Homo sapiens: one gene and its partners. The protein of the gene in region 1 interacts with the protein of each later gene in a biochemical or structural test. Each region holds a gene or a part of one and is shown in the gene's direction. Other genes may lie near its edges.

Region 1 (6,854 bases):
CCGACATTTTGACTGCAACTTTATGAAAGACCTCAAGGAAGAACCACCCGGCTAAGATGCTCACAAATTCCGGACCCACAGAAACTATGTGAGATGATAAATGTTGATTGTTGATTTAAGCTGCTATGGGTTAGGGTAATTTGCTTTGAAGCAATACATAATAGACCCACTAACTCTTTCACATCTACCTTCAAGCATGCAGAGATCACATTTGGAAAAATCACAGGCCCTCTTTTAGTTCCTATCTCATGCCCCTTCCTCCCCAGCATTTTCCAAAGTGTGATAAGCACTGCTTGACTCCATTTAATTTACCCATTTATCTTTCACTATGTCTTATTTACCCATCACCCTTCTTAAACACTATCCTTGAAGGTAGCACCTCACTAATTCTGATATCCATTTCCTGTTCCTTATTCCCTTAGATCCCTGTTGCAAAATACATCTTTTTGAAGCTATTTTCCTACCTAAAGCTCTCACTTTTCTTTGCTGCCACTACACAAAACACTCTTGGTATTCCACTTACTTTCCCACCCATGACCCATCTTTTTCCTCATAGGTCTTCACTGTTGCTGCTCCCCAAAGCCCATTTTCTAGTGCCTTCTCTTTTCTCTGTCTTCCCCTTTCCTCTTTGGGAAGCAATTTGTATCTTACGGTTTCAAAATCATTCTCTCACATGATTGCTCTCATATCCATATTCTCAGCCCCATATCTCTACCTACCACTAGGGAAGTTCCACTTGAATACCACATACATTTCATATATGTGTATGTCTTAAGCTCGGTTTACCATTCTCCCCTCCAAAAGCTTATCAATGTTAACACCTTTAACTCAATCCACCACTCATAAATTTAGAGTTCATATTTACTCTTCTATTTTTCTACTTCTGTATGTAATTGCAACAAAGTTCCATGGCTTTTTTTTTTTTTTTTCTCAAAAAGTTCTTCTTTGGGTTTCTAGTGCTATCAACCTTGTACAGGCAGGCCCTTATTATTTTGGTCCTAAATACTGCAATAGTAATTGAACTTGTTTCCCTTTCCTGATTCTGTCCTCATTCCATGTCCCTCCACTAGACTAATTGTCTATTTAATGCATCACTGTCACAATAATACTCTCCTGATACACAACCTCTTGTTGCATTTAAGCTCAATTTCATGTTTCTAAGACTAACAGTCAATGTCCTTCACTATCTGATCTCAACCATTGGACTTAGTTGTATTTCCTTGCTTGGCCTCCATGTTGAGCATTTCATACTTATGTCCATTCCACATGCATTTCCTTACGATTGGAAGTTCTTCACCTATTCTTTTGCTTTTCCAAATGCGTCTTGCATTCAAGTTCTATTGTCTCTACAAAGTTTCCCTTACTCTCCGTCCATGGCAATGCCCTTTTGAACATCTTTAGCCCTTATCCTCTGCACCATTTGTTTTGCTTTAAGGAAATTTTCCTGAAATTTGTTGTTGCTGTTGTCTGCATGACTGACTGACTGACTGAATGAATGAATATCTTGCATTGCTACTTATTTGTTTTATGCATTTATCTTCCTACCATGAAGATTTTAAGTTTATGGAAGGTAAGACCAAATATAATCTTTCTTTTGCATATATTTTACCACCTAGTGCAGTATAATATCCCAAACAGAGATAATTCAGAGGGCAAGGATTATTTATTGACAGTGTGGCCTGATGCCTAGAAATCTGCATTTTTAACAAGTCTTGTACCCTCCTCCCCACCCCATAGGATTTTGATGTTCTGCTTGTGAGTAGGGATCTTGTCTATTTTCTTTATCATGTGTCTTCAGTGCCTGGCATATAGTAAGCATTAAGTAACATTTTTGAATTAGTTATGCAGTTGATCACAAACTATGTTTTGAAACTACATCCTGGGAGAAAGAGTAGGAGATTAAATAACACACTGAACTACTATATGTTGCACATGTATTTGCATGTTGCAAAAATGTGTGTGAAATGTTTTGAAAAGCTTAAAGCAATTTTTTTTTTTTGAGATGGAGTCTCACTCTGTCACCCAGGCGGGAGTGCAATGGCTCCATCTCGGCTCAGTAAAACTGCTGCCTCCCAGGTTCTAGCGATTTTCCTGCCTCAGCCTCCCAAGTAGCTAGGATTACAGACATGTGCCAACACGCCTGGCTAATTTTTGAATTTTTGGTAGAGAAGGAGTTTCACCATGTTGACCAGGCTGGTCTCGAACTTCTGACCTCAGGTGATCCACCTGCCTTGGCCTCCAAAAGTGCTGGAATTACACGCGTGAGCCACTGTGCCCAGCCCATTTAAAGCAATCTTAAAGTGTAAACTATTATTGCAAGATACCAACGTAGATTTTTTTAATAAGTGTTAATTTCTCTTTTGTTGGGAGGTAAACTGCCCTAGGAAAGACAAAAATAATCTTGTAAGCTTACTTTTTAGGTTTCTTTCTATTTATAAAGAAGAGAAAAAAATCACCATTTTTTGTGCAAATCATAGACCTTTGAGTTAGAAGGGCACCAAAAGTTTCAGCTCTATTCCCTTTAAACAAATACAACATTTATTGCATTAGTTATGGGTGAGGAAATTGAGGCTTAGAAGGATTTGAAGATTTGCTCAAGGTGGAGATTCTCAAAAGTGTCCTCAGATACCTGCATCCTAACTTCCTGGGAAGTTTGTTCTAAAGTTTAGACTCCAGAGCTTCACCCAAAACTTACTGCTAAATTAAATCCTTTAAAGGAAATCTGCATTTTTAGGATCTCCTCTTATGCCTTCCAGCATAGTGCTTCTCAAACCCTAATGTTCATCTGAATCACCTAGGAGTCTTATTAAACTGCAAAGTGTGATGTAGCATGTCTGGAGTGGGGCTCAAGATTCTGTTTTTGTTTGTTTGTTTTTGTTTTTCAACTTTTATTTTAGATTTAGAGGCCACATATGCAAGTTTGCTACCTGGGTATGCTGTGTGATGCTGACATTTGTGGTATGAATGATTTTATCACCCAGGTACTGACAATAGTACCCAACAGTTTTTCAACCTTTGCTCCCTCGGTCCCCTCTCTAGTAGTCCACAGTGTCTATTTGTTGCCATCTTTATATCCCTGAGTGATATGGTTTGGCTGTGTCCCCACCCAAATCTCATCTTGGCCAAGAAGCCAAGTTTTAATGGGTACACAAGTGCATAGGAATTGGAGAGTGGGGAGCGTGAGTTGACTATTGGTCAGGGACTGTCAACGGAAGGGAAGGAACCAATGATGGGAGTGAGAGCCCAGAACTCGGTGTTCGAAGTGGGTAATTTATGGGAGGGGCATACCTACGAGCAGACAATGCACTCAGACAAGGAAGATTTGCACATTGGACAGAAGAGACACCTTTTTCCTCTGCAATAAGAACCAAGGAGGTAAGTAGGGGGTCTGATATGAGTTTGTGCATGTGTGCAGGGTGAGTGAGACAATCCATATATTTGAGAAAAGACAGTGAAATCTTTAAAGGTAAAAATAATAAAACCAGCTGTGGCACCTATTGGATAAGGAATTACTAACTGATGATTTAGAAATTCCTTTATGTGCGTTAGGAGCTCATTTGTTATCCCCATTTTACAGATGCGCAGCCCCAGGTTCAGCAATTTGCTCTAAATGAGACTGTAGAGGCTAATTCCAGCCCCCGGCAGCTCTCACCTTAAGCTGCCTGGCTGAGGTCAGCAGTAAGTTACCTGGCAGCGTCCGGGGGCCTGCAGCCGAGGACAGGGCTGGAACTACACTTCCCAGTGTGCCAGGCGGGGCGGGGCGCGGCGGGGAGGGCGCAGGCTCCTTCCCAGAAGCAAAAGCGGAAACAAAAGAGTCTCGCCGGCGTCCCCGCCCGCACACTCGCGCACACTCGCGCTCGGGCGCACACGGAGCAGGGACCGGCGCCCGGAGCGAGCCAGGGAGCGGCTAACCGGGGACCCACCGCGCGGAGCCAGCCTAGCTGCCAGCGAGCCCAACCCGCGACGACCCACGCCCCTGAGCCCCGCAGCCGACCCCTGCCGGCCGGTGTCCCCACCGCCATCCCTGACCCATGGCGCTGAAGAGGATTCAGAAAGTGAGTGCCGGGGCCGGGCCTGGGGCTGCGGGGCAGCGGCCCCCTGCCCACGCTGACTCGGCCAGTGGTCCCGAGAGACATGCGGGGAGAGCAAGGGATGGAAGGGTGGGCCGGGGTGCGGGCAGGGAGCTGAAGGCTCGGGCCGGGCCAGCGGGCATCGGACAGGTGAGGTGGGAGCAGGGTCAGGTCCCAGGCGGCCGGAGGAGCTTGAAGGCTGGGGGCCCGCGCGCGTTCGCGCCGGAGCCGCTCCCGGAGCCCCAGGGTAGAGAGCCTCTTGCGCGTCCAGACCGTCCCGAAATCTGTGCTTCACGGTCACGGCCGGGTTTTGCCCTCCATGGGGCTAGTTTTGACCCCTGTCATGCTGTGTTTTCTCCAGGCTGTTTCTTAAGCCTGTCCTCTTTTATGTTCTTGCTTACCCGGCCTCCCCGGGAGGGCAAGGAAGGTGGGGTGGGCCTGCAGCCTTTCTCCGCGGAGCTGTCGGGTTGGTTCTTTCTCTCCTCTGCGGTTGGCTCTTGCTCAGTTGCCCGAATGGGCTGGAAAGCCCATTTGCGGCCAAGAAGTCAGGAGAAGGCTCCTGCCCCTTCTATTTTGGTGCCTCTGCTGCTGCCACTTCAGGTCACATAGCTGTAGCGAAAACATAGTTGCTGATACACAACAAGATGACCTCCTGGCTGTGATTCACGGTGAGTCAAGCCAAACAGGTTTTTTTCCCCCTCATGATAAACTTAGATGTAAAGTTCGAGACACAACATAAACTGTCGCAAATAAATTGTTTTGATGCTTTGACACATGGGTATAGAATGAGGAAGAAATATATATCTTCATCCAACAACTGTTTACCCATCTCAACCCTGTGTATGGAATCGTCTTTTTTTCACAGTATTTATTGCCACCATTTCAGATGCGAACATCCTTCAGAATTCAGATTCGGGCATTTCTTTCTGTTCATTTTTATTTCTTGTTGGTCTGTGTACTGACCCAAGTTTTAGGTTTTACAGTTACAGTTCACACTGGCAACATTGAGAATGTGTTTGTTAAATAGGGAGTGCTTTTCACTAAGTTAAGCAACAATGGACAGTGTATTTTGTAGTTGTTTCAGAAGAAATTGATGCCCACATTTTTATCCACTTTTTTGACCAGGAGTCCATTATAGCAATAGTATATGTTAGAGCAGTGATAGTGACGTACGCATTGCATTCTGACTCGCCACTGGTGACATCTTTAGGTACAGAGGACAGCAACTTTTAGAGCCTGCCAGTTTTTTATTTTCAAATTCTAAATCTGTGGATCACCTGTTATTTTTTGTGCCATTTAAAGGTCATCTCATTGTAAAACATACAGTTAACAATCAGCATCAGCATTTATTAAGTAATAATGTTTTCTTGTTTGAAGGTAGCGCAATTACACATTGTTTTATATAAATACCCTAATTTTGAAGCCTTAGCATCTTTACCATACCTTGCATACTTATTAATGACGAAGTAATATTGGTTCACATTTGGATCAGAAAATGCACATCTTCCAAGGAAGTTTTCAAATTCTATTTCCTTCTTTCCTAGTTGTGAGAATTTTTCACATGATTTTGCACATACAAGAGCTTTTTAAATTTCATTGTGTTTTTTTAAGAGATGGGGATCTCACTATATTGCCCATGCTGATCTTGAACTCCTGGCCTCCAGAAAGTCTGGGATTACAGACACAAGTCACCATACCCAACTAACAATAGCTTAAGCTGTATAATTTGTCCACAGTAAGTGGATATTCAAAGAAATATGAACATTATTTGTAAATACCACCCTTGGCAGTTCTCATCAATCACCATGCTGAACTAGTGTATTTGATTTATATTTATAATATGGCGTGTGTCCAAATCTTTTTAGTATTTATTGGTTATTAGTTTATAGAATTGTTGAGTAAAAAAAAAAATTACTTACATAGAATTGATATCAAACATGTGACAAATTGATATTTTGGAAAAGAAATTGGGGATGACACACCATCACATCTCTGTGTGTTCATTTTTGGCTTCCCTTTCTGATATCAGGAAAATCGACTTACACAAATCTTCTTTCCATTAATCACACATTCAGACCAATCCCTCAAACCTTAGGGGTGATTATTTTGATTGATTCCCTACTTTTCCTCCTCCTTTACCTACCTCCTTGATTAGAAGCCAATTCTAGGTTAGATGTGCCGCCTGCCGTATGAACAGTTACACCATCTTCTTTGATGTCATCAGTATAGAATTCTTATTTGAATCTTTCATGTTCCAACAAATGAAGATGTATACTAACTTTTGGCCTTTCTTCTTAAGCTCACTGAAGTATTAATATAATTTTCCTGTACCTATAGATGGTGGCAGGCCATAGAGTTGTGTGGAACCTCAGATAAGTCTGCTGTAGTGTAGTAGAGGGTACAAGCAGGGGAACAGCTTCTAAGGCAGTGTCTTAGAATCACCTGTGGGACGTTTTCAGACTGTCATCACTTCTATAAATGGAGAGATGTTGAATCCCTCAGATCGGTTGGGGTGGAAAGAAGACTGAGGACCACTGATGTTCTGGCCTGTCCTTATTCAAGGAAGGATCCAGAGGCCTGGAGTGGAGGAGTGCTTTGTCCAAAGATAATCTCTTTTTTTTTTTGAGATGGAGTCTTGCTATGTTTCCCAGGCTGGAGTGCAGTGGCATGATCTCGGCTCACTGCAACCTCTGCCTCCTGGGTTCAAGCAATTCTCCTGCCTCAGCCTCCTGAGTAGCTGGGACTACAGGCGCATGCTGCCATGCCCCGCTGATTTTTTGTATT
Region 2 (7,029 bases), on another chromosome or scaffold:
AGGGGATAGAATGGAGAGTTAGAGCCTGGTTAGGAGGGGTTGCAGTGCGCCAGGTGAAAGATGATAATGGCATGCACTTTGGTGGCCTTGATGGAGGTGTGAGAAATGGCTGGATTCAGGAAACATTTTGAAGATCTAGAGGAAGGATCTTAACATGCAAAGTCCTTGAGAAGGAACAAAACATTAGGAATTTTGCTTTTATATTACAGTCAATTGGTCTCTGTCCTTTTTATCTTAACCTGGCGTGTCTTATATTTGAGCTTCTAAAGGCCAGGGTTTAGAAGGGTCCACAACTTTGCATGCAGTCGAGTGTTTAGTTGAAACAAGAATAAAGGAGGAAGAGTGAAGAAGAGAAAAAATAGTAATAGGAAAAGCCATTGCCCTCAGTTTTATGGCTCCCTTCCAAGTTCACAAACTTTTGTGAGGGCCACAACAACTTGCCCAGAGAGCACAGGTGCCTTCCCTTGACTGCTGTTCCCAAGATCAAACAGCTAGTGGCAGTTGTAGAACACGGATCTCTTGGCCATGGAGCTTTTAGAAATGCTCATGCCCAGGCTCCACTGCAGATTAGTTAACATCAGAATCTCTGGGGATGTGCTTGGGCTTTGGCTGGTTTGTTTTTCCCTGAATTCGCCAGGTGAGTCTTATATGCAGACAGGGCTGAGAACCTCTGGGATGTAGCGTGCTGTATCCTCTAAAAAGGATTTGAGACCAGGCACGGTGGCACATGTCTGTAATCCCAGCACTTTGGGAGGCTGAGGTGGGTGGATCACCTGAGGTCAGGAGTTCCAGGCTAGCCTGACCAACATGGAGAAACCTCGTCTCTACTAAAGATACAAAATTAGCCGGGCGTGGTGGCACATGCCTATAATCCCAGCTACTCAGGAGGCTGAGGCAGGAGAATTGCTTGAACCCGGGAGGCGGAGGTTGCAGTGAGCTGAGATCGCGCCATTGCACTCCAGCCTGGGTAACAAGAGTGAAACTCCATCTTGAAATAAATAAATAAATAAATAAATAAATAAATAAATAAATAGGATTTGAAAGAAGTTGCCCCCACTTGGGAAAGATGTAGTGGTTGTTTCTCTAGTCTCTATGCATTCTCCTGAAGAGAAGATGGTAGGCCTGCATGCTGAGAGGTTTTATTTGTTCCTGTTCCTTTTAAAATTTCAGATCTTTCTTACTGTAACAGCTGACCTGAACTGTAACCTGTTCTCCAAAGAGCAGAGGGCATACATAACCACACTGTGCCCTAGTATCAGAAAAATGGAAGGTCACGATGGAATTGAGAAGGTGTGTGGTGACTTCCAAGACATTGAAAGAATACATCAATTTTTGAGTGAGCAGTTCCTGGAAAGTGAGCAGAAACAACAATTTTCCCCTTCAATGACAGAGAGGAAGCCACTCAGTCAGCAGGAGAGGGACAGCTGCATTTCTCCTTCTGAACCAGAAACCAAGGCAGAACAAAAAAGCAACTATTTTGAAGTTCCCTTGCCTTACTTTGAATACTTTAAATATATCTGTCCTGATAAAATCAACTCAATAGAGAAAAGATTTGGTGTAAACATTGAAATCCAGGAGAGTTCTCCAAATATGGTCTGTTTAGATTTCACCTCAAGTCGATCAGGTGACCTGGAAGCAGCTCGTGAGTCTTTTGCTAGTGAATTTCAGAAGAACACAGAACCTCTGAAGCAAGAATGTGTCTCTTTAGCAGACAGTAAGCAGGCAAATAAATTCAAACAGGAATTGAATCACCAGTTTACAAAGCTCCTTATAAAGGAGAAAGGAGGCGAATTAACTCTCCTTGGGACCCAAGATGACATTTCAGCTGCCAAACAAAAAATCTCTGAAGCTTTTGTCAAGATACCTGTGAAACTATTTGCTGCCAATTACATGATGAATGTAATTGAGGTTGATAGTGCCCACTATAAACTTTTAGAAACTGAATTACTACAGGAGATATCAGAGATCGAAAAAAGGTATGACATTTGCAGCAAGGTTTCTGAGAAAGGTCAGAAAACCTGCATTCTGTTTGAATCCAAGGACAGGCAGGTAGATCTATCTGTGCATGCTTATGCAAGTTTCATCGATGCCTTTCAACATGCCTCATGTCAGTTGATGAGAGAAGTTCTTTTACTGAAGTCTTTGGGCAAGGAGAGAAAGCACTTACATCAGACCAAGTTTGCTGATGACTTTAGAAAAAGACATCCAAATGTACACTTTGTGCTAAATCAAGAGTCAATGACTTTGACTGGTTTGCCAAATCACCTTGCAAAGGCGAAGCAGTATGTTCTAAAAGGAGGAGGAATGTCTTCATTGGCTGGAAAGAAATTGAAAGAGGGTCATGAAACACCGATGGACATTGATAGCGATGATTCCAAAGCAGCTTCTCCGCCACTCAAGGGCTCTGTGAGTTCTGAGGCCTCAGAACTGGACAAGAAGGAAAAGGGCATCTGTGTCATCTGTATGGACACCATTAGTAACAAAAAAGTGCTACCAAAGTGCAAGCATGAATTCTGCGCCCCTTGTATCAACAAAGCCATGTCATATAAGCCAATCTGTCCCACATGCCAGACTTCCTATGGTATTCAGAAAGGAAATCAGCCAGAGGGAAGCATGGTTTTCACTGTTTCAAGAGACTCACTTCCAGGTTATGAGTCCTTTGGCACCATTGTGATTACTTATTCTATGAAAGCAGGCATACAAACAGTAAGTATTTCTCAAGTCCATGGGTTTCTTGCCACTATGCTACGATTACCAGGGCAAAAGAGACTGTCCTGTTGCCTATTAGACAATAGATTTCCCAAGGAATTATCTCCAGGGTCATGTGCAAGGGACTGAAATAGTGGTAAAGGTCACAATGTTTGCTGGTAATTCAAATACCTTTTGTGTCTATTTCTTAAGACAGAGAAAGGGTGGGTGGAGATTATATCTTGAGATGGGGGTATCAGGAAGGTGGACAGTGTTTCCAGCATGAATTCAAGGAAAGAGGAGAAATATGAGTTATTGGGAATATGAGCATAACTTCAATACCTTTCTTGCTTTTGATTTGCTTTATCTACAAATGAACACATCTATACCTATAGTAAAAATTAGACAGGGCACTCTTTTCACATGACATTTTCTTGTTCTCACACAGGAAGAACACCCAAACCCAGGAAAGAGATACCCTGGAATACAGCGAACTGCATACTTGCCTGATAATAAGGAAGGAAGGAAGGTTTTGAAACTGCTTTATAGGGCCTTTGACCAAAAGCTGATTTTTACAGTGGGGTACTCTCGCGTATTAGGAGTCTCAGATGTCATCACTTGGAATGATATTCACCACAAAACATCCCGGTTTGGAGGACCAGAAATGTGAGATCCTTTTGGGATGTAATGGCTGCTCAACAGAGTATAGGGATTATGAAATACGGCAATTTCTGGATGTGGATATAAGTAGACTCTATAGCAGTGGAATTGGTGTTTTGAGAGCTGCTGATCGGGGATGGTAATCTCAAAGACAGAAAGATTGGTCCCCATCAACTTCTACCCTGCCAGCTATAAAGTACTATGGAGTTATTTAAATTTTGCACCAAAGGACAGGGGGCTTTTGAATCCGAGATGAATACTATATAAGCTGATTTAATTTGAGGCGTTGTGTCTATCTGAAGGCTAGATGCTCGGAATGTCACTTTGCTTCCTTTTAAGGTCACCTTTCTTTTTCACCCCTTCCCCCACCAGTCCACAGAGAACCTGAAATCACTTGGCCAATAATATTCTAGAAAAAGTCTAAGTTGTGAGGAGACTATTGGTAGAAACTGTATTATACGAAATCCAATTGTTCTTTATGAAACCCAAATAGGATTCCTCAGACCCTTGGCACTAAAGAAAAAATATATACCCTGAGACTTTTCCAAAACCTTAAATTTGAAAATCCTACTAGCATGTGATTACGATGCCCCCCTAAAACACAGTATATTATTATATTTTTAGGAGAGTCACTACTTACCATAAACTGAAAAATTTTAAGAATTAACATAGACATGAAGCCTCAAAGTAAATCAACGTATTACTATTCATCTTGGATTCTCAAACCCCCTGCCCTTTGATGCGAAATGTAATAAATACATCATATTAATACTTTGTAGTTGGCAGGGTAGAAGCCAGCTTGAAAGGCAGATGCTGGCCAGACAGCTAGGCTCACTCGCTAGCGAAATGACTCGCATCTGCGAATTTAAAAGTCATGATACGTCATCCACCTTCAGGATTACTTGTGAATGTTTGCAACACTGGATATTAATTAAATCCTTAAATGCTGGATATCTATTGCACATATCCGAACAATTTGTGGTGACACTAAAGGAATTTTTGTTTCTTCAGGTATGGCTATCCTGATCCTTCTTACCTGAAACGTGTCAAAGAGGAGCTGAAAGCCAAAGGAATTGAGTAAGACAACTGCTGGAAGATGTCTTAAATCAAGCTTTCAAAAAAATATATTTTAGGAGGCTGATTTAATGCCAGTCTAAATCCTTATGTAGAAAGGACTTTGAAATTTTTCTTCTCAAGAAATGGTTTGTATAAGAATAACAATCTGCTAGTCTGTCATTTCTGGAGTGATACTTTTTTTTTTGAGACGGAGTCTGCTCTGTCGCTCGCGCTGGAGTGCAGTGGCATGATCTCGGCTCACTGCAAGCTCCGCCTCCCAGGTTCATGCCATTCTCCTACCTCAGCCTCCCGAGTAGCTGGGACTACAGGCGCCCACCACCATGCCCGGCTAATTTTTGTTTTTGTATTTTTAGTAGAGACAGGGTTTCACTGTGTTAGCCAGGATGGTCTCGATCTCCTGACCTCGTGATCCGCCCGCCTCAGCCTTCCAAAGTGTTGGGATTATAGGCGTGAGCCACCGCGCCCAGCCCTGGAGTGATACTTTTTATGGAAGACAAAAGCCCCCCAAATCTGTGTAAAATCTGCTGCAAAGGTGTCATCCCTCTTGTGTCATCACTGGGGTTAGAGGTGGGTCCGAAATAATCTTCTGTGTCCTTCAGTTGGACTCTCGGCTGCCAATTGATCTCTTTTTCATTGCCATCTCTGGGGTGGTTCTTTGGTTTTTTGTGTGTTTTCCCCTTCATCTCTACCTGTGAAAGTGAAATTCTATTGTAAATGGGAGGAAAAAGGGTTGGTTGTGAAAAATTAAAGACCCACATTCTGCTTTCTTACTCATGGTAAGAAAAGTGGCCATGAGTAGAGATTGGGCAAGCATTGGTAATAAATGGAATAAGACTATTATTATTATTATTTGAGATGGAGTCTCACTCTGTCACCCAGGCTGGAATGCAGTGGTGTGATCTTGGCTCACTGCAACCTCCACTTCCCGGGTTCAAGCGATTCTCCTGCCTCAGCCTCCTGAGTAGCTGGGATTACAGGTGTGTGCCTCCACACCCGGCTAATTTTTTGTATTTTTAGTAGAGACGGGGTTTTGCCATGTTGGCCAGGCTGGTTTCAAACTCCTGAGCTCAAATGATCCTCCTGCCTTGGCCTCCCAAAGTGCTGGAATTACAGGCATGAGCCACCACACCCACACAAGACTATCATTTTTAATGACCAAGAGCCTAGTATATAGTTGGTGCCTGTCTTAGTCTGTTTGTGTTGCTATAAAAGAACACCTGAGACTGGGTAATTGATAAAGAAAAAGGTTTGTTTGGCTCACAATTTTGCTGGCTAGAAGGTTGGGCATCCGGTGAAAGCCTCAGGCTGCTTCCATTCATAGCAAAGGGCAGCCAGTGTGTGCAGAAATCAAATGACAGAGAGGAAGTGAGAGAGAGAGGTGTCGGGGAGGTGCCAGGCTCTTTTTAACAAGCAGTTCTTCAGGAACTAAGAGTGAGTCACTCCCATGAGAACAGCACCAAGCCATTCATGGGGGAATCTGCCCCCATGACCCAGACCCCTCCCGTTAGGCTTCACCTCCAACACTGAGGATCAAATTTCAACATGAGATTTGGAGGAGGTCAAACAAACTAAACTGTAGCAGTGTTTCATAAAATTGTTTGCCTGACTCAGGTTGCTAGTAAGCCAGCAGAGGGATATTTGCCTCCTAAATCTTTGGCAGAGGCAGGAGTAAGGAAGCCATTTCTGGAGTCCTTGCTACTAATTTGGAAAACTGAGCTTCTTTCTTTCATTGCTTTTTCCCTTAAGAGACAAGTCCTTACTATATTGCCCTGTCTCTCAAGGGAAGACATCAAGACTGGACTTGAACTCCTGGGCTCAAGCCATCCCCCAACCTTGGCCTCTCGAGTAGATGGGATTATAGGCATGTGCCACGGTGCCTGACTTGAGTTTCTTATTCTAGAACACTTGGAGCCTGAACTCTGACCAGGCCCCTCACTTGAGCCTTTGCTTTCTGCTCCTTGTAAACTGCCATATTGGGTGCACTTGCCCTGCCACAGTAATGCTATATATTTCTGAGCATTGTTTTTCTCTAGATAATTTTATATTTTTGAGTATACCCCACTTCCAAGTGTTTTTTGTTTTGTTTTGCTTTGTTTTTGTTGTTGTTGTTTTGAGACAGGGTCTCACTGTGTCCCCCAGGCTGGAGTGCAGTGGCACAATGACGACTCACTGCAGCCTCAACCTCCTGGGGCCAAGTGATCCTCCCACCTCAGCCTCTCAAGTGGCTGGGACCACAGAAGTGCACCACCATGCCTGGCTTTTTTTTTTTTTTTTGGTCGAGATGGGGTGTCCCTGTGTTGCCCAGACTGGTCTTGAACTCCTGGACTCAAGGGATCCTCCTGTCTTGGGCTCCCAAAGTGTTGGGATTACAGGCGTGAGTGACCATGCCTAGCTCACTTCCAGGTTTAACAGACAAAATAAACTTACTCTAGTTTCCATCTCTATCATTTTATAATAACCGTAGCCCACATTGTAGTAGTTTTTCAGCTCTTTACTAAGTCCCACCAATTCATGTTTTCACCCTTAAAATCTTTCTCACTGATACTCTCTCTGGACAGAAAAAAGGTGAAATAAGCCTACTATAAGGAATATATGACATGCTAA
Region 3 (7,029 bases), on another chromosome or scaffold:
CTGGTCTTGAACTCCTGACCTCATGACACATCCGCCTCTGTCTCCCAAAGTGCTGGGATTACAGGCATGAGCCACCGTGCCCTGCTGGGCATTGCTGAATTTAAGCCAGTTTTGTGAGCCTTGGTTTTCTAAATGATTTGAATACTGTTTACTTTTTGTGGTATAATATAGAGAGTTTACATGCTAAGTTCTTAAGTTCATTGAAGGTATTAGTAAGGGCATGAGAAATAACACAGGAGTAGAATTAGGTGGATCTAACATAAGCTATATAAAAGTCAACAGAACAATTTATTTGAGTTAAAAAGAGGAGGGCTGCTGCCCCAGACCTCACCTTTAGTTTCATATGGGCCGGTTTCTGATGACAAATGGAATGAATCATAATTTTTAATTGTTTTGGGCATTTATTTTTCACAAAGTTGTCTAGCTTTGAATGTATGTAGTTTTCTTTCAGAATGAGTTGTTTAATTATCAAGGAATGCAACAAGCTATATTTTAAATTTTAAAATGAAATAAAGTAGAAAACGTGATTTAATTAAAACATCAGTCTGCAACGATCTTTAAGAAAATAAGAATGTAGAGGACCTGAATGACATAATTTATATTTCCTGTAGCTGTTAAATTCCACACCCCAAAAACAGAACGTTACACCTCTTTTTTAGAATAACTATGGAATGATTTGAAAAATAGTCTCATTTCTGAAGAAAAAAGAGTTGAACTCTGAGATCTGTTAGTAGAAATATAACAAAAACAAAAGCAACTCTTAGAAATTAAATCTCTAATAAACTCATTGGTTAAAGCAAAATTTTAGTCTGCAATGGGAGAATATCTAGGAAAAATTAAAATTAAATCACAATATATACAAGGCAGGAAAATCACATGATCCTGGGAGGCGGAGGTTGCAGTGAGCCGAGATAGTGTCGCTGCACTCCAGCCTGGGCGATAGAGCAAAACCCTGTCTGAAACACCAAAAAATAAAAAATAACAACAACAACAACAAAAACACAATGTATAAAAAATCTTACAAAGTTCAGCTTAGCTACAACTTTAGAAAATATGCTTCTTGAAGTATATGTGTCCTTTCATTACTAAAAGTGAAGACTAATAACACTTGAAAGGCTCACCTAGAGTTTTGTTTTTTTGTTATTTTTTTTTAAGAAATTCATCTATTCTAATAAGTCTTTAGAACATATTATTACTTTCAGATTAGAACCTTAAAAACAAAAATGATATGAGGGATCCAGGAACTATTTCCTTTCTTAAGAAGCTAATTTCTTACCTTCTTTTAAGACTCTTTTCATGAATTCTGGAAAGATGGAAGAAGAAGTGATACAGAAAAGAGAAACCTTAGGTCCTCTTTTGGAACAGATGGTTGTACTTGTATGATATCTTAAGAAATTTATGGCATCCTTACAGATTGAGTTAGAATTATTTTGTGAGATTTTCAGTGACTCATTTCTAAGTTCTTTTGAGATGGTGTTTGGAATAAAAGCCTTAAACTTTTTTTTAACAAGTAAATTTGGTATTAATGAAACTTTTTTCTAGATTTTCATTGGTATATGCTCTTATGTGGAAAGTGGATATCAGCTATGAATTACATAAATTGCATTTGTTACATTAATATCTCACCCGAATGGCAGCAGTTTTCTGGATATCAACATGTGTTTGTTTTTTATTGCTTATGTAAATCTCATGTAACCATTCCCCAAGGTCTAAAAAATAATCTAACTGAAAACAGTTTTTTCATGTTCCTCAAACTTGCTTTTAGAATAGTGCTGGCATAAGGATTTGATTTATTGTAAATATGATGCACCATATCAATCATGGAATTATTTGAATGTTTTTTGGAACTTTTGTGGTAAATTCCATATTTCTCCAGGACTTTTTTGTGTTCTTTCTGTTGACAAGTACTTTAAAGTTTTAGCAAGTATCACTATGTTGATTTCATGTAGGTTTATTTATTGTTTAGTGCTTGAAATGATTTTCTGTGTAAAATCAGTTTGAGAATTGGTTCGTCTGTCTCTGCATTTGCTGTGTTTACCTGAATTTTAAGTACAAATTGGAAATCGGTATCAGTGTGGGAATCATCAATTGTCTTTTCCGTAAACTTTTAAAGCCATTACAGTCACATTATGTATTAAAAGTGTGTTTAGATCTAAAGTCTAAATTTGCTTTTTGTTAAAATGTAGCATATTTGAATATCTGCACTAAAATTGCTGAAAAATGTGTTACTGCTTAAGCAACCTTAACAACGCTGTGCAATTATGACTACTGGTGATAATAAACTCTTCGGTATTGCGGGGCGGGGGTGGTTCTGAGAGGCAATTTCTTTTTGCCAGATTATTTAGTAGAATAATAATTAAAATTTATAAATATTTGGAAAAAGGGTAGGGTCAACAATGAATTGTGGGAAGCTTTAAGAAATATATAAAAATATTTCATTTTCAGTATTGTATTTGCATCTCAGTTTCCTGATAGATTTCTGTTTTGATTTTCTGCTGACAGGTCACATTTAGGGCAGGCAAAACATAAGGGATATAGCCCTCCTGAGAGTAGAAAATCTAATTCTAAGGCACCCAAAGTGCAGTCTAATACTACTTCTGAACTGTCAAGGGGACACCTTTCTAAAAGGTAAATCTTCATGTTGCTTATACATTTTCAAGGCAGAATTATTTGCATTCAAATCATTGCATAATGTTAAAACTTGAGGTTATTCCAAAACGTTTTGATACATATTTTCATTATTCTCTAAGTAACTTTTAGGATTGACAGTTTATCACCTTTGCAGTGATTAGTGCAGTATACCCTAGACAGTGAGTTTGTCAATGATAAAATGATATTTTTGTTTGGAGAGCCGTAAGATTCCCCCTTTGCTTAACAAACCATTATGGCCATTTTTTATTTCTTTTTATTTTTTAATCTTTTTTTTAGTTTTTATTGTCAGAGCCATAGTTTAGGTTTAAGTCAGTGATTCTTAAGATTTAATTGTTAAGAGACTTTGGAAAGCAATGTTAACTTTGAAGATTTGATAGTACTACAATATAAAAATCTCTAACCTTCATTTTGAAAGTGCGTATGTTAATGCTTATTTCTTCTAAGCTTTGACAAAGCAGTTGTGCTTGTGAATAGGGCATCAATATTCTGGCTTCCTCTGGTTCCGAACAATTAAGTGTTGTTTTTCTTGTAATCTTAATTCTTGTTTTGTGATTACGAGTGTTAGTGTCAGTAATCTTTGGGCTAAAGAACACCCTTATCTTTTAATCAGATATTTTAGTATCCAAAGTCACATCTGCTTTTGTTTTGTTCTTTTATTTCGTTTTACAGATTTGAACCTTCTGAAAACCTATGTTTAATACTGGACTTAGTAGGAACATATTCATACTTTATTTTTTGAAAGCATTATATATGACAGTTGTAATTATGACAGGCTGATATTAACTGTTTTCTTATCTAACCTCTTAGAAGCTGCAGTTCATCATCTGCTGTGATAGTTCCACAACCAGAGGATCCAGACAGAGCCAATACTTCAGAAAGACAAAAAACGGGGCAGGTGCCTAAGAAAGACAATTCTCGAGGAGTGAAGCGCAGTGCTAGTCCAGACTACAACAGGACCAATTCTCCTAGCTCTGCAAAAAAACCAAAAGCACTTCAGCATACTGAATCTCCCTCAGAAACAAATAAGCCACATAGTAAGTCAAAGAAGAGACATTTAGACCAGGAGCAACAACTGAAATCTGCACAATCACCATCAACAAGCAAGGCTCATACCAGGAAGAGTGGGGCCACTGGCGGTTCACGGAGTCAGAAAAGAAAAAGGACAGAGAGTTCTTGTGTAAAGAGTGGCTCCGGGTCTGAATCAACTGGTGCAGAAGAGAGATCTGCGAAACCTACCAAGCTGGCTTCAAAATCAGCCACCTCAGCCAAAGCTGGGTGTAGCACCATCACTGATTCTTCTTCTGCTGCCTCTACTTCCTCCTCGTCTTCTGCTGTAGCCTCGGCCTCCTCCACTGTACCACCAGGTGCCAGAGTGAAACAAGGAAAAGATCAGAACAAGGCCAGGCGTTCCCGTTCAGCGTCCAGTCCCAGCCCCAGAAGAAGTAGCAGGGAAAAGGAACAGAGTAAAACTGGTGGCTCTTCAAAATTTGATTGGGCTGCTCGTTTCAGCCCTAAAGTTAGCCTTCCTAAAACAAAACTGTCTCTTCCAGGGTCTTCTAAGTCAGAGACATCAAAACCTGGACCTTCTGGATTACAGGCCAAATTAGCAAGTAAGTTTACAAAAAGGTATTTTTCTTTAATTAAAGAAAGTTTCTCTTGGTTTGTCAAAAGCAATTATGCTTTAAAGTTAAGGGTTTTTTCCCCCCAGTCTTAGATAATCTTAGATGTATTACTGTCTGTGTAATTAAGTACATAACAGCATGTAGTAAGTGCTACTACATTTAGTTTTGTTGAGACAGGTAAGGAATACTACCTTCCTATTATTACGAAACCATCACATTTTAGTGTCTGTGTCTTTATTGGTCCTCGCGGCATCTCCTACTTCACTGATTTCCTAATATCAGGATGGGACATAAAGTTGGATTTTCTTCTATACCACATACAAAATTATCATTTAGTTAGGAGTTCTTTTTAGTTATGAGTTGCCATGATCAGAGATCAAATATATATATGTTTTTTTAGATGGAGTCTCACTCTGTCGCCTAGGCTGGAGTGCAGTGGCGCAGTCTCGGCTCACTGCAACCTCCGCCTCCTGGGCTTAAGCAATCCTCTTGCCTTGGCCTCCAGAGTAACTGGGATTACAAGTGTGCACACCATGCCTGGGTAATTTTTGTGTTTTTAGTAGAGATGGGGTTTCACTGTGTTGGCCACGTTGGTCTCAAACTTCTGACCTCAAGTGATCTGCTCACCTCGGCCTCCCAAAGTGTGGGGATTACAGGTGTGAGCTACCATGCCTGGCCAAATATATTTTTTTATATGAGATATTCTTGATGTGTAGATACAGTGAATTAAGTTATTACTATAAATATACCTCAATGTAAATTAAACTTTTTCATATGTAATATCTCACAGTCTTTTAAGGAGTTTTGTCTAAAGATGAATACTACTTATGTTTCACTACTCTTATATACACTACTCTGTGTCCTAAGTGAGTAAGAATATTGCTCTCTAAAAGTTTACAGTGGAGTAGAAAGAATTTGTGTTTTGAGAATACATTCAAGCAAAGAAACAGAAAGTAGATGGAAGAAACATAGCGTTATGTGCATTCCTTCATGAGTCAGTTTTGGAGATATCCAGGAACTCTTCTCCCTCTCTCTTTACCAAAAGACTTCTTCAGGGAACCAGCTGCTCATCTGGGGAATGCTAGTGTCTTTCTTTTCTTTCCTCCCTTCTTTTTTTTTTTTGAGACAGAGTCTCACTCTGTTGCCCAGGATGGAGTAGTGGTGTGAGTGGTACGATCTTGGCTCACTGCAACCTCCACCTCCTGGGTTCAAGCAATTCTCCTGTCTCAGCCTCTCCTGAGTAGCTGAGATTACAAGTGTGCGCCATCACACCCAGCTAATTTTTGTATTTTTAGTAGAGAGGGAGTTTCACCATGTTGGTCAGGCTGGTCTTGAACTGGGACAAGTGATCCACCTGTCCCAGCCTCCCAAAGTGTTGGGATTATAAGTGTGAGCCACTGTGCCCAGGCTTCTTTCCTTATTTCTATTTCAGAAACCTATAAAGGACAAATAGGATAATAAAGCACTTATCTCTACAATTTTTAAAAGCATTTTAATTTTATAATACCTAATTAGGAAGCTTGCTTTTAAGCATCTTTTCTTCTCTGATGGATTTTAGATCTACATTTGGGTAGGGCTATAATGTTTTCTTGGTTTAAAAAGATTGTATATAGTGTCTACTAGCATTCTTGTCAAAGTATAGCTCATATTGAATCAGCCTAACTTAAAATTGAATCAGAACTATTAGCTCTGTTTAATTTAACACTGCAGTCTAAAACTACTTTTGGTTGATTCACATATTACCTGAAATGACAATACTATTAATAGTAGGTACTATATAAAAAATTTTATGTTTAACCTGTATGATAGGTTATTGTGAAGTAACATATTTTACTTTTAGATTGAACTTTGTTCTGTTTTGGTATTTTAAATATGCAGAACATCTGTATAAAATGTTTTAAGTTTAAAGGATTAAGATAGGCTAGATCAGTATCTTGAAGTGAGAAGGAAAAAAAGGTCCAAGTTAAAAGGACAACCAACTATTTGTCCTTCCAATGCTTTATTGATAATTGGAGTTACATATGTCAGCTTTTATGCTGCCTTTCCTCCCTGTGTTTTGTGTCTGTCAGTCCTGCTATGTAATATTCACAGCCAGTGAGCCAGGTTGAGTTTACAGCAAGCTGCTTAGGATTCACTTCCCCTTCTGCCTTCCAGTCTGCCTCACTTGAAGAACTCATCTCTTATGTGTAGGAGGGTTCTAGGGCCAGGCAATAGCAGATTGTACTTGAGTGTCATGGCCTTGGTCCTTTGTAGAGATCAGCTTTCTTTTCTTTATATAGTCTGTTAACTTGATTTTTAAAAGAAAACCCAACTCTACCAGTGGCTAATCAGTGGGATTTTCTCCTTGGTGTTTCAATCAGGAAACACCAAGAGTTTTGGCAGTGTCATTTTGCTGCTGGTTTGATAAAACCAATCCAGATAATTCCATTAAGCCTGCTCAGCACATAGTCACAAACTAATTTAGTATTTTAAAACTCATTTCACCATTATTTCATTCACTTGCACAGTATCTGTGTTCTGTTGTCACTATTAAATCACTTTTCCGTTTTCACTGCCACTATCCCAGTTCTGATCTCTCATCGTAGCCTAAGCTGTTGAAACAAGAGAATGGAACCAGCGTTTGTGTAGCATAAAATAAGTACCAGGTATTTTACATATGCAGTTACATATTCTTTTAAAAAAAATGGTGCTTTAGGATACACTTTTTTTTTTTTTTTTCTGAGACAGAGTCTTGCTGTATTACCCAGGCTGGAGT
Region 4 (7,029 bases), on another chromosome or scaffold:
TGCAAAAATTAGCCGGCCATGGTGGCAGGCACCTGCAAGCTCAGCTACTCGGGAGGCTGAGGCACCAGAATCACTTGAACCTGGGAGGCAGAGGTTACAGTGAACTGAGATCATCCCACTGCCCTCCAGCCTGGGTGACAGAGCGAGACTCTGTCTAAAAAAAAAAAAATTAGCAGAAGCATAATGTATCTTGGCAAATATAAAAATATTAATTTTGTAAAACATTCAACCTGTATGAAAAATGTTGACTGTCATGAGAAGCATCTTACAAAACAATTAAAAATTCACACAAAAAATTTGAATCCTGTCATAGGATAACTATGGGTTAGTTTTAGAAAAAAAGTTTTTTTTTTAAAAGCAATACAATAGAATCAGTTCCCAGTGGGCTAGGATGTATTTATTCTTCTAACATTAAGTTTAGAATAAATGATCTTAAATGATTCTGTGATTTGAGGCAAACAACCAGATTTGAAATGGAATAAACACCTAGAGATGAGAAATTTATGTTATTACATTTTCATTTCACTTGTATAAATAATCCCTCAAATTTTATTTTCTTTACATTTTAGGTGTGAGTACTTGATAAGAATTAAAGGACAGGAGTTCATCCGTCAAGTTCAAGCCAGTTACCCTCATCTACTTGAACAGGTAGGGCAAGTTCTTTTTTTAAATATTGGTTGCCATCAGAGAAATTGCTTTCTGATAATTACAGAGAGTGCTATTTGAGTGAAAAGACAAGAGTTGTTTTAGAAATACATTTTCTTTTTCTTATCAAACCTGACATGATTTTAGAAAGTATTATTCTTTGGAGAAAAATAGATCCATAAATGGTAGTCTCCTGATAATGACACTTGTGATGTTTTTCAAACAAGTTGCAATAAATCAAACTTCGAGAAAAAATGACTGGGATAGTAGTATTTAACAGTTTCACTATATAAATTTTCCTTCAAAAGATCTGAGAAAGAGAATTTTATTGCTTTTTCTAACCTTGAGAAAGCAAATAACTTACATAATAGTTTGATGGTCAAACCCATCCTAGCCATGAGCAATGAAACTGATACAGGGTCCAACTTATCCCAAAGGATGACCCAGGGTAGGTAAGACCTGTGGATGAAAGGAAAATTGATTGTCACATGGATTATGGAAAAGATATAGTCCGTTTCCTGCCTTAATGAAAATGGGTTTTGTTATTATATACACACACTGAAACTCTATTAGTTTATGGCCTAGGGAATAACTATCAAATATAAATGAAATATTGCTTTTGGTTAAAAAATTATTTTGCCAGTAAGCAAGTGGTTTGCAACAAGTTGAATAAAATATGTCTGTTGGGTCATTTTCATTGCAATGGGTAAGATAAGATTTCTATTTTAATTTATATATATATATATATATATATTTTTTTTTTCTGCAGCTGCTATCCACATCAGACAGCCCAGGAGATGAAAATGCAGAGTCATCAAGTAAGTACAATGGATAATAATGAATGCATTTAAATAGAGTCATTTGGTACTGTTAATATTGAAAGTTGATAATAGTAATGTACCTGTATATTGATTTATAATTTACGATGAATGCATTTTCAAATATACTGTGTTGGTATTTCCCAAACTTCAGTGCATATCAGAGTTGCCTGGAGAACTTTAAAAAATATGACAGATTTCCAGTTTCTACTTCAGACCTACTGAATTAAATCTGAGTATCTAAAGGTGGGGCTCAGGCATGTATAGTTTTAACAAACTACATACATCCAGCCTAACACTTGTTCTTGGGCCAGTGTGGGAGCAGATGTACTATGATATTAGATTGCTCACATATTCTTTCTGTGAAAGGGAAAGAATAGAACACGTTAGTCACCTTTTTAAATAGGGACGCTGAGGCTCAGAAAGGTTAAATGACTTGTACATCACCTTACACCTAAAATGCAACAGAGCTAATATTTGTACAAGCCCCTCTACTCCATTATCTCATGTTCAATTCAATTCAGTATATATTTATTGTATATTGTATATCGCCTGTTCTGAGGAAAGCATAGAGAACAGGATAGAGCCAACCCAAATGTCCATCAGTGATAGACTGGATTAAGAAAATGTGGCACATACACACCATGGAATACTATGCAGCCATAAAAAGGATGAGTTCATGTCCTTTATAGGGACATGGATGAAGCTGGAAACCATCATTCTGAGCAAACTATCACAAGAACAGAAAACCAAACACCGCATGTTCTCACTCATAGTTGGGAATTGAACAATGAGAACACTTGGACATAGGAAGGGGAACATCACACACAGGGCCTGTTGTGGGGTAGGGGGATGTGGGAGGGATAGCATTAGGAGATACACCTAATGTTAAATGACGAGTTAACGGGTGCAGCACACCAACATGGCACATGTATACATATGTAACAAACCTGCACATTATGCACATGTACCCTAGAACTTAAAGTAAAATAATTTAAAAAAAGGAAAAAAAGAATACAGAACAGGATAAACATAACTCCTGGTCTCATGTATCTACTGGAAACAGACAAATACACAGACAGGAGAAAGGGATATGGCAGCAAAAGTAAAGTGTAATATGAGAGTGCATATAGGACAATTAACCCAGACTTGGAGGGTCAGAAAAGGCTTTCCAAAGGAAGTACTTGTCTTAGCAGAAAATCCAAGGGAAGAGTAGGAGTTAACCGAGTGACAAATGGAAGAAAAGAGTATTCCAGGCAGAGGGAACAGCATATGAAAGACCGAAGTGACAAAGGAGAATAGGCACCTTTGAAGAACTGAACAAAATTCCATATGGCCAGAAGTAGGAGTTGCTAATAGATAAATCAGGGAAGCAGGCCAGCTGTATGAGTGGTCAGCACTACAGGCAGAATTGACACTAGAGCCATCAGTTTGTGACTTCTGGGCTAGAGTGCAGAATGTGAATGATTCAGTGGCAAGAGATGAGGCTGAAGAGGTAAACAAGGTTCAGATTGTATGAGACTTTGTAAGACACTTTATTTTGGATTTTATCCTAAGAGCAATGGAATTGTTGATGGAATTTAAGAAGTGTGACACATCATATTTGTGTTTTTAAAAAGTCACTCTGATTGCACTGTTGAGAATGAATTCCAAGGAAGCAATATTTTATAACCATAGCCTCTCTGAAAAATATGTGAATTATTCTTGATTGAAAACTCATTTGTTCATTCAACATAGGGAAAAATAATCTCAATTCTAGTGGGAGGTAATCCCTGCCATTCTGTTTCCTTCTCCTGCTCACATATGTATATCCAGTTATGACAGGTAATGTGTATTTTGCATCTAAGTACAATATTCCAAGTTGTTATTTAATGACTGAACGTGTATATCATTTTAAATTTAACAATGTTCATACAAAATAATGCCTATACATTTTGTTGGTTTTACATTTTTAATATTATAAAACCTTTCAATTTTTGATTTCATTTCAAATTTCAATTTTTAAGAAATATAAGGCTATCCTAATATGTGTTAAATTCTTTGTTCCATATAGTTATCCATTTTGAACCTGGAGAAGACCATTCAGAAGATGCAATCATGATGAATACTCCTGTGATTAATGCTGCCGTGGAAATGGGCTTTAGTAGAAGCCTGGTAAAACAGACAGTTCAGAGAAAAATCCTAGCAACTGGAGAGAATTATAGACTAGTCAATGATCTTGTGTTAGACTTACTCAATGCAGAAGATGAAATAAGGGAAGAGGAGAGAGAAAGAGCAACTGAGGAAAAAGAATCAAGTATGTAGATTTATTAATACAGTCTATTTTCATAAGGATTTGATATCAGTCTATATGTTATGAAAAATATACTCATCTAGCATATCTGAAAATATACTCAATCCAGTCAGGTTTTTTTCATGTTTAGTATTCTGAATTCAAATGCTGAAAAATTTATTCATATTCAAATATATTTGAGTTGCTCATAAGTCAAAAATGTATGATGTACAAAAGTATTTTTCATGTTTTTCCTTAATTCATATTTTTTTCTCTGGATAGCTGACGTTGTGTCCAATTATGCATTCATGGCACATTTTTTTTTTCTTAACGCTTTGAAAATGGAATCCTTGTTGCATCATGGCACATTTTTAATCCCAGGCTAGTTGCTCACTCCCCTTTGGAGTAAATCAGGGTGGGATCAGGGACAATTATTAATTTTTTTTTGAGACAGTCTTACTCTGTCACCCATGCTGGAGTGCAGTGGCATGATCTCAACTCACTGCAACTTCTGCCTCCTGGGTTCAAGCAATTCTCGTGCCTCCTTCCCTTAGCTGGGATTACAGGCACCTGCCACCATGCCAGGCTAATTTTTGTATTTTTAGTAGAGAAGGGATTTCTCCATGTTGGCCACACTGGTCTCAAACTCCTGACCTCAAGTGATCCGCCCGCCTCGGCCTCCCAAAGTGCTGGGATTACAGGCATGAGCCACCGTGCCTGGCTGGATGGTTATTAATTTTAATGTTAGCATAAAAGCATGTCTTAGCCTGTGACTATACATTAATACACAAATTACTATTAAGTCCCCTACCTGTCCACACAAGAACTGAGTCTTCCAGAGCATCCGTCGATTATTTAGGCAAGTCCTAGTATACTGTTTCACAATCTCTTAGGACAAGTTGTTCATGTCCTTCCATACTAAACGTATCCACTATGTTCTCTATTGCCCTTCACAAAAACTCTTCTGGGCACATACATTCTCATCTGGCTGTTTTGACTGCTATCATCATTCTGTCCTAGACAAAAAGAAATGCTGATCTCTCCTTTCCCAAGCATGGACCAGACCTATAAGTCCCTTCAACACAGCTGAAAACAGACTGCAACTTTTAACAAGCTCTTACTGGAGACTTAAGGAAAACGGAAGGGAATTATATCACAAATGTTGATTTACAGCTGCAACTAGCTGTGACCTCTCTTAGTGCCCCCGGGCTCATCCTCATAAATCTCCCCTGCCTAGCTTCTGGTTCATCTCTGTGTAGCTTTGGCAAGTTTACACAAGTCACTAGGAATGTCCCAATAATGTTTTCCTTTATCAAAATTCAGGCCCCCCCAATATTCATAAAGCTCAGAAGGAGAATAAAGATTTCTCCTTATCCTTGTGCAAGGCCATCTGGGATCTATTTCTTCACAGGATGATTGACAGTCAGATTGTCCACTTCATTTAGGGATAAATCCAACCCTGCCCATGAAGATGGATTTGTTCTCTGACCCAACCCAGACAAACCTATCAGACCATAGTGATATAGCATCATACATTCACCAAAGTGTGAATTACTCAGTCTATAAACCACTAGTGTAGCAGCAATACAGTCACGGTTAACCTTTGCCCAGCCTCATCAAATTCTCTTTTCTCTGTGAAGATTAGGCAAGCATGTCCTTCCTGTAGCCTTCTTAGTGGTAGCCATTTGTCATCAGCCAACAATTGCTCAAAGAAGAGAACACTTATCTCCACAACTGTTGAGAGACCCCATAAAATCTAAAACTATCCACTTATAAAATATTTATATTTCTTTCAAAGACAATCAGAAAAGTCTCCAGAAATGACTTCAAGTCAACAATATATAATAATTTACATTGTGAAAAAGAGCCCTTAGCGTTTCTGCCTCACCATTATATATATATCTCTACTACCTAGTATCGTGCCTGCATATAGTCTGTGTTGTGAGTGAGTGAATGAAAACACATTTAGGTTAATGATTACGTTATAGTTTCCCAAGAATAGTAGGGATATAAATAAAGAGGTAATTTAAGATTTTTTTTTTCCCAGAATAAAATAATAATATGGCTGAGTGTGGTGGCTCACACCTGTAATCACAGCACTTTGGGAGGCTGAGGCAGGCAGATCGCTTAAGCCCAGGAGTTCAAGACCAGGCTGGGCAACATAGCAAAACCCTGTCTGTATAAACAAATATAAAAATTAGCAGGGTGTGGTGGCATGTGTCTGTAGTCCCAGCTCTACTCAGGAGGCTGAGGTGGGAGGACCACTTGAGCCCAGGGAGGTTGAGGCTGCAATGAGCTATGATCATATGCCACTGCATTCCAGCCTGGGCAACAGAGTGAGACACTCTCTAAAAGAAAAAAAAAAAAGAAAGAAAGAAAAGCAAAAACAAAATTAATAATATGCTTCAAAGGCAACTACTCAGGAGGCTCAGGTACAAAAATAGCTTGAACCTGGGAGGCAGAGGTTGCAGTGAGCTGAGATCGCACCGCTGCACTCCAGCCTGGGTGACAGAGCAAGACTCTGTTTTAAAAATGAATAAATAAATAATAAAAGAAATTTTATGGAAGAATGATACTTTAAGAAAAAATTGTTTTAATTCAGGCTGAATGTGGTGACTCATGCCTGTAATCCTAACACCTTGGGAGGCTGAGGCAGGTGGATTGCTTGAGCCCAGGAGTTTGAGACCAGACTGGACAACGTGGCGAGACCCCATCACTACAAAAAATTTTTAAAACAAAGTATTTGTGATGGTGTATGCCTGGTAATCCCAGCTACTCAAGTCTTCTGAACTTGCAAACCAGAATATAGTCTACAACTTTGAAATGAGACTTTTTCTCAGTTACTAGCAATTAAATTTTAGAAATCTTAAGAACTTCAGAGAATGCATTATATTAGGTTACGTATAATTACAAAAATAAATCTTAGATTGAAAAACTAGTATACTTCAACACCAAGTTTGTATTTTTATTTTCTAATATATCCCTACTTTGCTAATAGAAATAATTTAACAAAATATATTAAGTTCTAAGTCTTCTACCCCTCTCACCATTACTTTTCATTCCTACTCTTTAAATTATAGAACTAAGGTTTGATTGTTCATTTGTTCAACAGATATTTATGGAGCATTAACTTTGTGCCAGACACTATTCTAGCTCCTGACCCTTTTCTCATTTATTCTCAGAGCTTCCATTATTTTCAAAATATGTCTTTAGCCTTGTCTTTTTGACTAAGCATCATCTTTATTTTCTGGTTGTTGTTTTTGATTTTTGCTGTTTTCTTTTTTCCATTTTTTA

Evidence for each region.
Region 2: the proteins of UBE2D1 (region 1) and DTX3L form a complex in vitro, tested with the Homo sapiens proteins (5 studies listed by BioGRID).
Region 3: the proteins of UBE2D1 (region 1) and TRIP12 form a complex in vitro, tested with the Homo sapiens proteins (5 studies listed by BioGRID).
Region 4: the proteins of UBE2D1 (region 1) and BIRC3 form a complex in vitro, tested with the Homo sapiens proteins (5 studies listed by BioGRID).

Annotation. Positions count from the first base shown.
Region 1 is NC_000010.11:58,331,171-58,338,024, forward strand, and holds the start of UBE2D1 (ubiquitin-conjugating enzyme E2 D1), read left to right. Parts: upstream 1-3,835; 5' UTR 3,836-4,031; coding exon 4,032-4,055; intron 4,056-6,854.
Region 2 is NC_000003.12:122,567,319-122,574,347, forward strand, and holds part of DTX3L (E3 ubiquitin-protein ligase DTX3L), read left to right. Parts: intron 1-1,170; coding exon 1,171-2,706; intron 2,707-3,136; coding exon 3,137-3,354; intron 3,355-4,359; coding exon 4,360-4,429; 3' UTR 4,430-7,029.
Region 3 is NC_000002.12:229,856,005-229,863,033, reverse strand, and holds part of TRIP12 (E3 ubiquitin-protein ligase TRIP12), read left to right. Parts: intron 1-2,502; coding exon 2,503-2,628; intron 2,629-3,459; coding exon 3,460-4,262; intron 4,263-7,029. UniProt on the Homo sapiens protein: E3 ubiquitin-protein ligase involved in ubiquitin fusion degradation (UFD) pathway and regulation of DNA repair.
Region 4 is NC_000011.10:102,327,483-102,334,511, forward strand, and holds part of BIRC3 (baculoviral IAP repeat-containing protein 3), read left to right. Parts: intron 1-569; coding exon 570-648; intron 649-1,414; coding exon 1,415-1,463; intron 1,464-3,516; coding exon 3,517-3,759; intron 3,760-7,029. UniProt on the Homo sapiens protein: Multi-functional protein which regulates not only caspases and apoptosis, but also modulates inflammatory signaling and immunity, mitogenic kinase signaling and cell proliferation, as well as cell invasion and metastasis.